2 separate regions of the Homo sapiens genome follow, and region 2 is linked to region 1. Evidence: fine-mapped expression QTL. A gene starts in region 1. The other region holds a variant in brackets. All regions are shown on one strand. Distances are from middle to middle.

Region 1 (4,380 bases):
GCATGTCTTAAGAGCTGGCATGAGGATCAGAGGGTCCCTTCAGTGCGGCCTTCTAGAAGAACTACAGCAACCAGGCCCTCGCAGGGGGGAGATGCACCTGCTGGGGCTAAGGAGCGAGTGAAGCCAGCCCCTGAGACACATGCTCCCAACCCCATCCTCACCTCCCAAGAGAGGGGGAGCCTCCTGTTAAGCATCCAAGTCCCAAGTCACCGGCCGGCATCGGCTGCAGCTCTCTGTGTGTGGAGACATCTCATTCTGGTGTCTTCTTTACACAGGTCAGCGCTCACAGGCTCGGCTGTGTCTCAAGACCCAATTCCTTCGAGTCACTGAGATGCCCAAGGACAAGGGCAACAGAGAGTGTGAAAAGCTGGAGTAGACAGGACAGAAAACAGGGTGCAGCGTCCCCCAGGTTGGCAGATAGCCCAGCCCCAGGGACCCCACAGCCATGGCAACCTGTGTGAATGAGCCCCAGGAGCAGGGCAGTACACGATCTGCGCGACTGTGCGGGGCAGCCCTGGGTCTCTGCCTCAGGGGAGAGATTGTGTCCTCGCCTTTTGTGGTTTCTAGAGGTTCCTGCCCTCCTTGGCTGCACGGCATCTCCCAGCCTCTCTCTCCCTTCCGTCGTCCCCTCTCCTCCTCTGACCCTGACCCTCCCAGTCCCTCTTAGAGGGGCTGTGATTAAACTGTGCCCACCCTGACCATCCAGAATAATCTCCCATCTCAAGGTCCTTAACAGCATGTGGAACTGCACTAGCCGCCCCAAGGCCCCCAAAAGGCAACCCTGGATTGGGCCCCCCAAGTTGCCTGGGATTCATGGCCACCACCCGGCTCGACGGCTCCAGACCGAAATGCACCCAGTTATAGAAACAGACAGTTGCCTCTTGAATGTGCACATGTGTGAGGAGAGTGTCACACCCGTCGAATTAAGGTGGACCCGCCATGAGTGGGGGCAATGCTGGCCAATGCCCACCTGCCCAGCACCCACAGCTCTCGGCCTGGGGCTCCCTCTGTCTCTGGAGCCCGCACTAAAGTGTGCGTCTCCATCCACGACTGGCAGGGCTTGGGGCATAGACATCCCGCTGCCTTGCCTGGAGGCGCCCCAGGCCTCCACTCCCACACTGTCTCAGGGCTCCCCGGGGCTCGGCTCTCCTTGCTCACAGTGGTCCGGGCTGGGGTTCCTTCTTGGTTGCATTTCCAGCTGTGTTCTTTCCTTCACTTTCTCACTCTCCCTTGCCTCAGGGTCTGCATCTGGGGGTCCACTGGGGAGGACTCAGCCTCTCCCGCGTCCTCCATCCCACACACCTGTCCCTGGGCAGCCACGGGGAACAGGAGCACAGGGGACAGCAGGCAGAGGGCAGCGCCCGGGCGAAGGGGACTTTCGCCCTTGCTTCATGCAGCCCTGGCACCCGCAGCAGGGTAAGACGAGATCCCAGAGGAGGAGTCTTGGCCGCAGAACTGCAGGGCCAAGGCACCAGCCGCTCGGGGGCCTGGAGAGCTCAGGTCACAAACTTGAAGTCAGCTGCCCAGGAAGCAGCCTCAGCTGGGGGTCACAGGCCAACTGGGCAGTGCCCTTGGCCACACCTGTGGAAGGAGGACAGAGGAGGGCAGGGCGGAGGAGGGAGGTGCTGGGCTGCAATGTCACCTCTACAGACCTCGGCTGATCCCAAGGGGGTCCACAGTGGATATGGTCCTTCAGGGGTGCCCTTGAAGGCAGGAAGGGGACAGGACTTTATACTGTTCCTCCCACCCCTTCGAGCAGTCACCAACTGCAGCCCAGATGAGGTCAACAGGTACAGAAAGGAGGGGGTGGGACAGGAAGGAGGGGCGGGACAGGAAGGAGGGGGCGGGACAGGAAGGAGGGGCAGGACAGGAAGGAGAGGGTGGGACAGGAAGGAGGGGCGGGACAGGAAGGAGGGGGCGGGACAGGAGGAGGAGATGGGAACAGGGAGGTGGAACGGGAAGGAGGAAATGGGACAGGAAGGAAGAGATGGGAGCAGGAAGGAGATAGGACTGGAAGGAGGAGATGGGACTGGAAGGAGGAAATGGGACAGGAAGGAGGAGATGAGGCAGGAAGGAGGAGATGAGGCAGGAAGGAGATGAGGCAGGAAGGAGGAGATGAGGCAGGAAGGAGGAGATGAGGCAGAAAGGAGGAGATGGGACGGAAAGGAGGGGATAGGACAGAAACGAGGGATCAGGGTCCTATTCTAATCTCCTGGGGGCATGATTGCAGGGGGTGACATGATTACTTCCAGCCAGCCCTACATGAGCCACCTCGTCCATGGAGTCAGCCCCGCCAGGGCAGCAGAGCCCTGGGTTCGCACAGGGAGCCAGGGTGGCGTGGGGCCTGCATTGCAGACTCCATTTGTCCACATCAATCACTTCTCTACGGCCCAAATCACCCTTAGTTGCCCAGTTCCTGCTCCGCGGCAGTCTGGCTCCTGCTGGCGCCCCAGCCATCTGTCTGCATTAGAGAATGATGCTTGCCAGGGCCTCAGGGAGGTGGCACGGATGGGCAACACTGTGCTCCCGGACCAGGTGACAGACACCACCTCATGCCCCATGGCATGGACCTCCACCTGTCTGATGGCTTTGCCCCAGCCTATCTGATGGCATGGTCCCTGGCCAGTCTATCTAATGGCGTGGTCCCCAGCATGTCTGATGGCGTGGTCCCCAGCCTGCCTGATGGCGTGGTCCCCAGCCTGTCTGATGGCATGGTCCCCGGCCTGTCTGATGGCGTGGTCCCCAGTCTGTCTGATGGCGTGGTCCCCGGCCTGTCTGATGGCGTGGTCCCCGGCCTGTCTGATGGCATGGTCCCCGGTCTGTCTGATGGTGTGGTCCCCAGCCTGTCTGATGGTGTGGTCCCCGGCCTGTCTGATGGCTTGGTCCCTGGTCTATTTGATGGTGTGGTCCCCAGCCTGTCTGAAGGTGTGGTCCCCAGCCTGTCTGATGGCGTGGTCCCCGGCCTGTCTGATGGCTTGGTCCCTGGTCTATTTGATGGTGTGGTCCCCAGCCTATCTGAAGGTGTGGTCCCCGACCTATCTATCTGATGGTTTGGTCCCCAGCCTGTCTGATGGCGTCGTCCCCGGCTTGTCTGATGGCATGGTCCCCGGCTTGTCTGATGGCATGGTCCCCAGCCTGTCTGATGGCATGGTCCTCAGCCTATCTGATGGTGTGGTTGGTGTGGTCCCCAGCCTATCTATCTGATGGTGTGGTTCCCTGGCCTATTCGATGGTGTGGTCCCCAGCCTGTCTGATGGGGTGGTCCTCTGTTGGCTGGTGTGATCCTGCCTCTTGTCTCACATCGTGAACCCTGGCCTGCAGGAGGTGACCCAAGGCTGATGACTCCTTCTCCGGGGCCCTTGCACCACACAGCCTGGCCCTGATTACAGCCCCTGGGCTCCTGTACCTGTCCTCGCAGCCCCCACTCTGCCACTTTGCATTTGTCTGTTTCACTCAACACACATTTAATGAGCACCTACTGTGTGTACCAAGCCCAGTGGGGAACAGCACATCAATGAGGCTGGTGCGGGAGGCCTTGGGTACCCTCCGTCTGGCTCCCCGCCCCAGCGCATGAGGCTGCCTCTCTGGGTCTCGGACGCCCACACCGCAGTGTCTGGGAGAAGGCCTGGAAGCCTGCATTTGGGCAGTGGCTCTGGGGCCCGGCCTTGCTGGCTTCCGGTGGCCCCAGGCAATGACTCCTCCCTGTCTCCATTTACAGATGGGGAGAGGAGCTGAGGATGGTGGGCCCGTGACCCTGAGTGGCCAGTTCATTCCCCAGGCCCTGACTGGTGCAGCAAGAAAGAGAATCCGCCTTGGGTTGGGGGATGTGGCATGAACTTTAAGATCCACCCTTTTCCACCCTGGGATCCTGGCCCCCGTCCCGCATCCCAGCCCCAGCCAGGACAGCCCCTGGCCACACCTTCTCGGCACATCAAGAGTCATGAGAGGCAGCGTCTGCCACCAGGAGGCCTCGTCCCACCGGGCCACCTGGCCAGGGCAGCTGCGACAGGAGGCAGAGCTGAGGCCCTGAGCCCTCCTCTGCCCATTCCCAGCTCACCCTCAGGGTTCTAGCCCTGTGTCGCTGCCCCTCTGATCCAAAAACTTGCCACAGGTCCCCTCCCTGCCATGCTGCCCTCTGAGTGACACCCACCCCCTGCAGCCCCCACAGCCCCCACCTTCCCTTCAGAAAGCAGGAGCTGTTGGCCCCGGGGCCCCGCCCACAGGCCACGGTGTCAGTGGTGGCTGAAGTCCGCCGTGCTCACCAATCCTCTGCAGTCTCGCCCCTGCAACAACAGCACTTGAGGAAGGAACTGGCCACGCAGCCTTTCATGAGGTGGGAAACTGAGGCTCAAGGGTGTCTGTACTTTGAACTGGACCACCC
Region 2 (4,380 bases), 360 kb before region 1:
GCATCTGTTGCTTCCCCTGGGGTCTCTGCCTCCGGCATCTGTCTGGGGGTGTCTGGGGGTGAGCAGGGACCCTGGTGCCACAAGTGACCAGCCACCTGTGAAAGGTAGAGGGACCGAGGGGCCATTTTGTGTGTGTGTGTGTGTCATAGCTAGTGTTGAAATAAGATAAGCTTCTGGGGCGGACCCCACCAGACCCTCTCCTTGCCGTATCTTGGGGATCCAACCTGGGCCTGGCTAGCCCCAGCAGCCCCACCTCTCTGGGTTGCCTAGGAGGCAGCCGGGTCCTTGGACCTCCAGGTGGGTGTGGGTGCTCAGTGGAAAGACCACGGGGAGGTGCTGGCCCTGGGACTGGACTGGGGGTGGTGTGGGGGCTGCGGCCCTGTCCCTCGTGGGGGAAGTGGACAGGGGTGGGGCCTGGGGCGTGTCCTAGAAGGAAGAGAAGAGTTGCAGCTCAGTGCCTTGACATGTTCTGGATGGGTCCAGAGAGCCATAAGCTCCTGTTTCTGGAAGTGGCTGTCTCTGCCCTGGTGAGCTCAGCAGGCCGGCCAGGGTGGGTACTTCTTTCTGCCACGCTGGAGGCCGGCCCACGGGAGAACAAAGCATGGGCAGCATGGGGCCTGCGGGTGGCAGGTGGCCATGAGGTGTTGGTGGCAACCCTTGAAAGTGCCCCTCCCCCTCGGGGTCACACTCTGGGAGTGGCTCGAGGACATCCCCGCTTGAGGTCAGCACTCGGGCCCAGGCAGGGTGTCTGCCACGTTGTAGCTCTGGGCCTTGGGTCAGGACTCCCCTGCCTGGGCCAAAAAGACGGGGTCCATTCCCTGACTTGGTGGGAATTGGAGGTGATCATGGGTGCACAGTGGCCTGCTCCGACCCTTAGGTGAGGGCTGTGGAGACCCCTCCCTAGCCTGGCATCTGTCCCTGGCCCCTCACCCAGGACTTCCTTCTCGTGGATCTCCTTCAGCCTGTTCAGCGACTCCATGAAGCTCTCCATGGCTCCCTGTGGCCCTGGCCCGGGCCCCTCTGCGCTGGGGTTGTGGAGACGCCTGCAGCCTCTACTGCCCCTCTGTGTCCATCCTGAAGAGGAGGAAGAGGGGACAGGGATCCGCTCAGGAAGGGCTTGTGGGCTGTGGAGTCCAGGAGAGGATTGGGGCTCCTTGTGTCTGTATGGAGCAGACCCCATGCCATGCTGTAGGGGCTACTCATGGGAGGTGGCCTGGAGGCTCCCGAACCCCACGGGCAGGCACAGAGATAGTACATTGTGTGGCTTCCTCCCACACGTATGTGGCCGGGGGCCAGAGGGCAGGGTGCTGGCTGCCGTGCGGGAGGGGCTGGAGGGGCCAGGGAGCATCTGGGGTGAGTGCCGGCACCTCTGAGCCACCCCGTTCTCCCCAGGTATCCAGCCCATCAGTGCCTGGCCTGTCCCCACATAAGCCCTTCCCCTGGCACCTCAATGGAGGGACAGGGAAGCCTGGCAAGAGCTGGATGGTGCTGGTGGCACCTGCCCAGCTGTGAAGCTGGGAGTCAGACCTCACCAGTAAGAGCCCCACAGACCCTACCATGCCACTGTCCACACCCCGGCCCCAACACCACTGTCACAGCACCTCCTTCCCTCTCACCAGAGCCCTGTACTCAGTTCCCTCCTGGGATCTCTGTCCCCCTCCAATGCCGTGGCAGCTTCAATCCTGTCCCACAGGCACACACACACACACACACACACACACACACACACACACACACAGATAGCATGTGCACACAACACACATGCACATATATGCAAAAGACACACACAGAGCATGTACACACATAACACACATGCACAAAGACAGACACACCACACAGCATGTATACACACAACACACAGGCACACACCCAGAG[T/A]TACACACATACAACACATATGTACACAGACAGGGATGCCCACACACAACACACAGAGACACATAGACATGGGTATACGCAGACACATGCTGACAACAAAGCTGTGCAGACATAGAGACACAGCTACACATGCAGTTGCAGGTACACGGAAACACACACAGCCACAGCAGCCCCCTCTGCCCGGAAGCGGCTCCCACACGCAGATGCTGGAAGGTTCCAGGAAGAGGTAGGAGCCACTCTGAAGAGGTCACAGGCCCCCTCCCTCCCTGCCTGCCTCCCCTACCCACAGGTCTCAGGAGGTCCTTGGTAGGCAGTGGGTATCTTGTGGTCTCACGGACTAAGGCCAGAATTAAGGGGCCGTGGGGCCTTTGCAGGCTGGGCCTGGGGACCTGGGCTGGAGCACTCATCGTCAAACCCTCCCAGACCTTTCCAAATTCCCAGTGGCCTGGAGAGCTCCCAGGCAGGGCTGGGCGGAGTGAGCCTGGGGGCGCTGTGACTGTCTGTCTGTCCTCCCCTGACCCTTCCCCCTCCTCCCACAGATTGGCCTCCAGGCCTGGGAGGTTGGGATACCGGTCAAGTGGCTGGGCCTCTGCAAGCCAGTGTTTGTGGCACACAAACCGCTGCAGTTCAGACTTCTTCACCGGGTGGCTTGTGCTTCACGCGGTCGGGTGGGGGAGTGTGTGTGTTTGCCGTGTGTGTGCACGCCCGAGCCAGTGTGCATGTGTGTGCCGTGTGTGTGCATGATAGCCAGTGTGCGTGTGTGTGTGCCATGTGTGTGCACGCCCGAGCCAGTGTGTGTCCCATGTGTGTGCACACCTGAGCCAGTGTGCATGTGTGTGTGCCATGTGTGTGCACACCCAAGTCAGTGTGCGTGAGTGTGCGTGTGTGTGCCGTGTATGCGTGATTGCCAGTGTGCATGTGTGTGTGCCGTGTGTGTGCATGCCCAAGTCAGTGTGCATGTGTGTGCTGTGTGTGTGTGATAGCCAGTGTGCATGTGTGTGCACACCCAAGTCAGTGTGCATGTGTGTATGCCATGTGTGTGCACGCCTGAGCCAGTGTGCATGTGTGTGGCATGTGTGCATGATAGGCAGTGTGCATGTGTGTGTGCCAGAGCCAGTGTGCATGTGTATGTGCTGTGTGTGCATGCTCAAGCCAGTGTGCATGTGTGTGGCATGTGTGCATGATAGGCAGTGTGCATGTGTGTGTGCCATGTGTGTGCATACCCGAGCTAGTGTGCGGGTGTGTGCCATGTGTGTGCATGCCTGAGCCAGTGTGCATGTGTGTTTGCTGTGTGTGCACACCCGAGCCAGTGTGCATGTGTGTGTGCCATGTGTGTGCATCTGTTTTTGCTCTGTGTGTGCGTGCCCAAGCCAGTGTGCATGTGTGTGTGCTGTGTGTGTGCATACCCAACCTACTGTGGAACCACTGGTGCGTCACCTGAACAACTGTGTCGGCCTCCTCCCTGCCTGGCCTCCTGCTCAACCTTCCCTGAACCCCCTGCCTCCCCCCATCTCTTCCAGGACCACTCTCCATGGTGGCCATCCCTGGGAAGCTCTGGTCTCTGCTCAGATGTGCACCGCTCTGCTCAAAATCCAACTTCGGGCTCGCAGCTGGAGGCCATGCCCAAGGCCTCGCCACGGCCAGCCCAGCCCAAGTGGATCACAGAGCGGAACAGCCATGGCTGCATCTGGGTTCTCAAAGGTCAGCCTGGAGACGCCCACGTGAGGGTCCTGTGTGCAACATCATTCTACAGAACCGTCCCGAACAGGACCGCCTAACCCCATCCCATGACGGGTGGAATATGGTGGCCGCCCAGCCCCATGCCCATCCCAGCGTGGCCAAACCACCCAAGCCAGGCTTGAGGGTGCATTGAACACAGAAAGAGGCACTTGCCCTGGGGCCCTGGAAGTCAGGTGGTGGGCGTCTTTGGGGGTGGGGCTGGGGTGCCTCTAACTGAGGGTGGCAGGCCTTGGACCCCGAGAGAGGCCTTGGGACCCCGAGAGAGGCCATGGGGCCTGGGGTGGGGACGGGGACTGGGGTGGGGATGGCGACTGGGGTGGGGACGGGGACTGGGGTGGGGATGGGGCCCGGAGTGGGGATGGGGCCCGGGGTGGGGATGGGGACCGGGGTGGGGATGGGGACCGGGGTGGGGATGGTGACTGGAGCCACTTGGAAGGAGGGTGTCCTAACTCTTGCCGAGCCCTTGCACCTGTGATCAAGCATTAGTGCCGAGCCTGGTGGGGCAGCAAGGGGTGTGGGACAGAGTGTGGCCTGTGTTCGGGGGTGGCTGCAGCGTCCCCAGGGGCCCCTGACAGGGCTAGTGGGGCTGCATGGAGGGCGGAGCACCAGGATGCTGGGCTGCAGAGGCTCAGTCCACAGACCCGCCTGGGCTTTGGGGCCTCCAGCCACCCTCGGAGGGAGTGGGGGTGACAGTTGGCGGCTCTGTGTTGGGTGGGTGAGGGATCCTGGGACTAGGGAGACTTGGGGCTTTCCTGGTGGGAGGCT

Which allele goes with the higher level. Positions count from the first base shown, and alleles are read on the strand shown. Sizes are in standard deviations (SD) of each study's normalised expression.
For the expression in monocytes of the gene that starts at base 1,703 in region 1, allele T in region 2 goes with a higher level than allele A (moderate effect, 0.43 SD a copy in Quach 2016).

Evidence for each region.
Region 2: its variant is fine-mapped to the expression of LINC00659 in monocytes (Quach 2016, PIP 0.95).

What each region holds. Positions count from the first base shown.
Region 1 is chr20:62,775,154-62,779,533 of GRCh38, forward strand. It overlaps LINC00659 (long intergenic non-protein coding RNA 659), which reads right to left and starts at 1,703. Exons shown (of 3, transcript NR_046225.1): 1 at 1,653-1,703; 2 at 162-233. RefSeq lists a silencer at 1,010-1,171.
Region 2 is chr20:62,418,657-62,423,036 of GRCh38, forward strand. RBBP8NL (RBBP8 N-terminal like) reads right to left here. Exons shown (of 14, transcript NM_080833.3): 2 at 931-1,074. The coding sequence starts at 991. Among named protein-coding and RNA genes, the nearest start is that of RBBP8NL, 6.7 kb to the right of the region's middle. RefSeq lists an enhancer at 4,353-4,380. The variant T/A (reference allele first, on the strand shown) is at 1,876.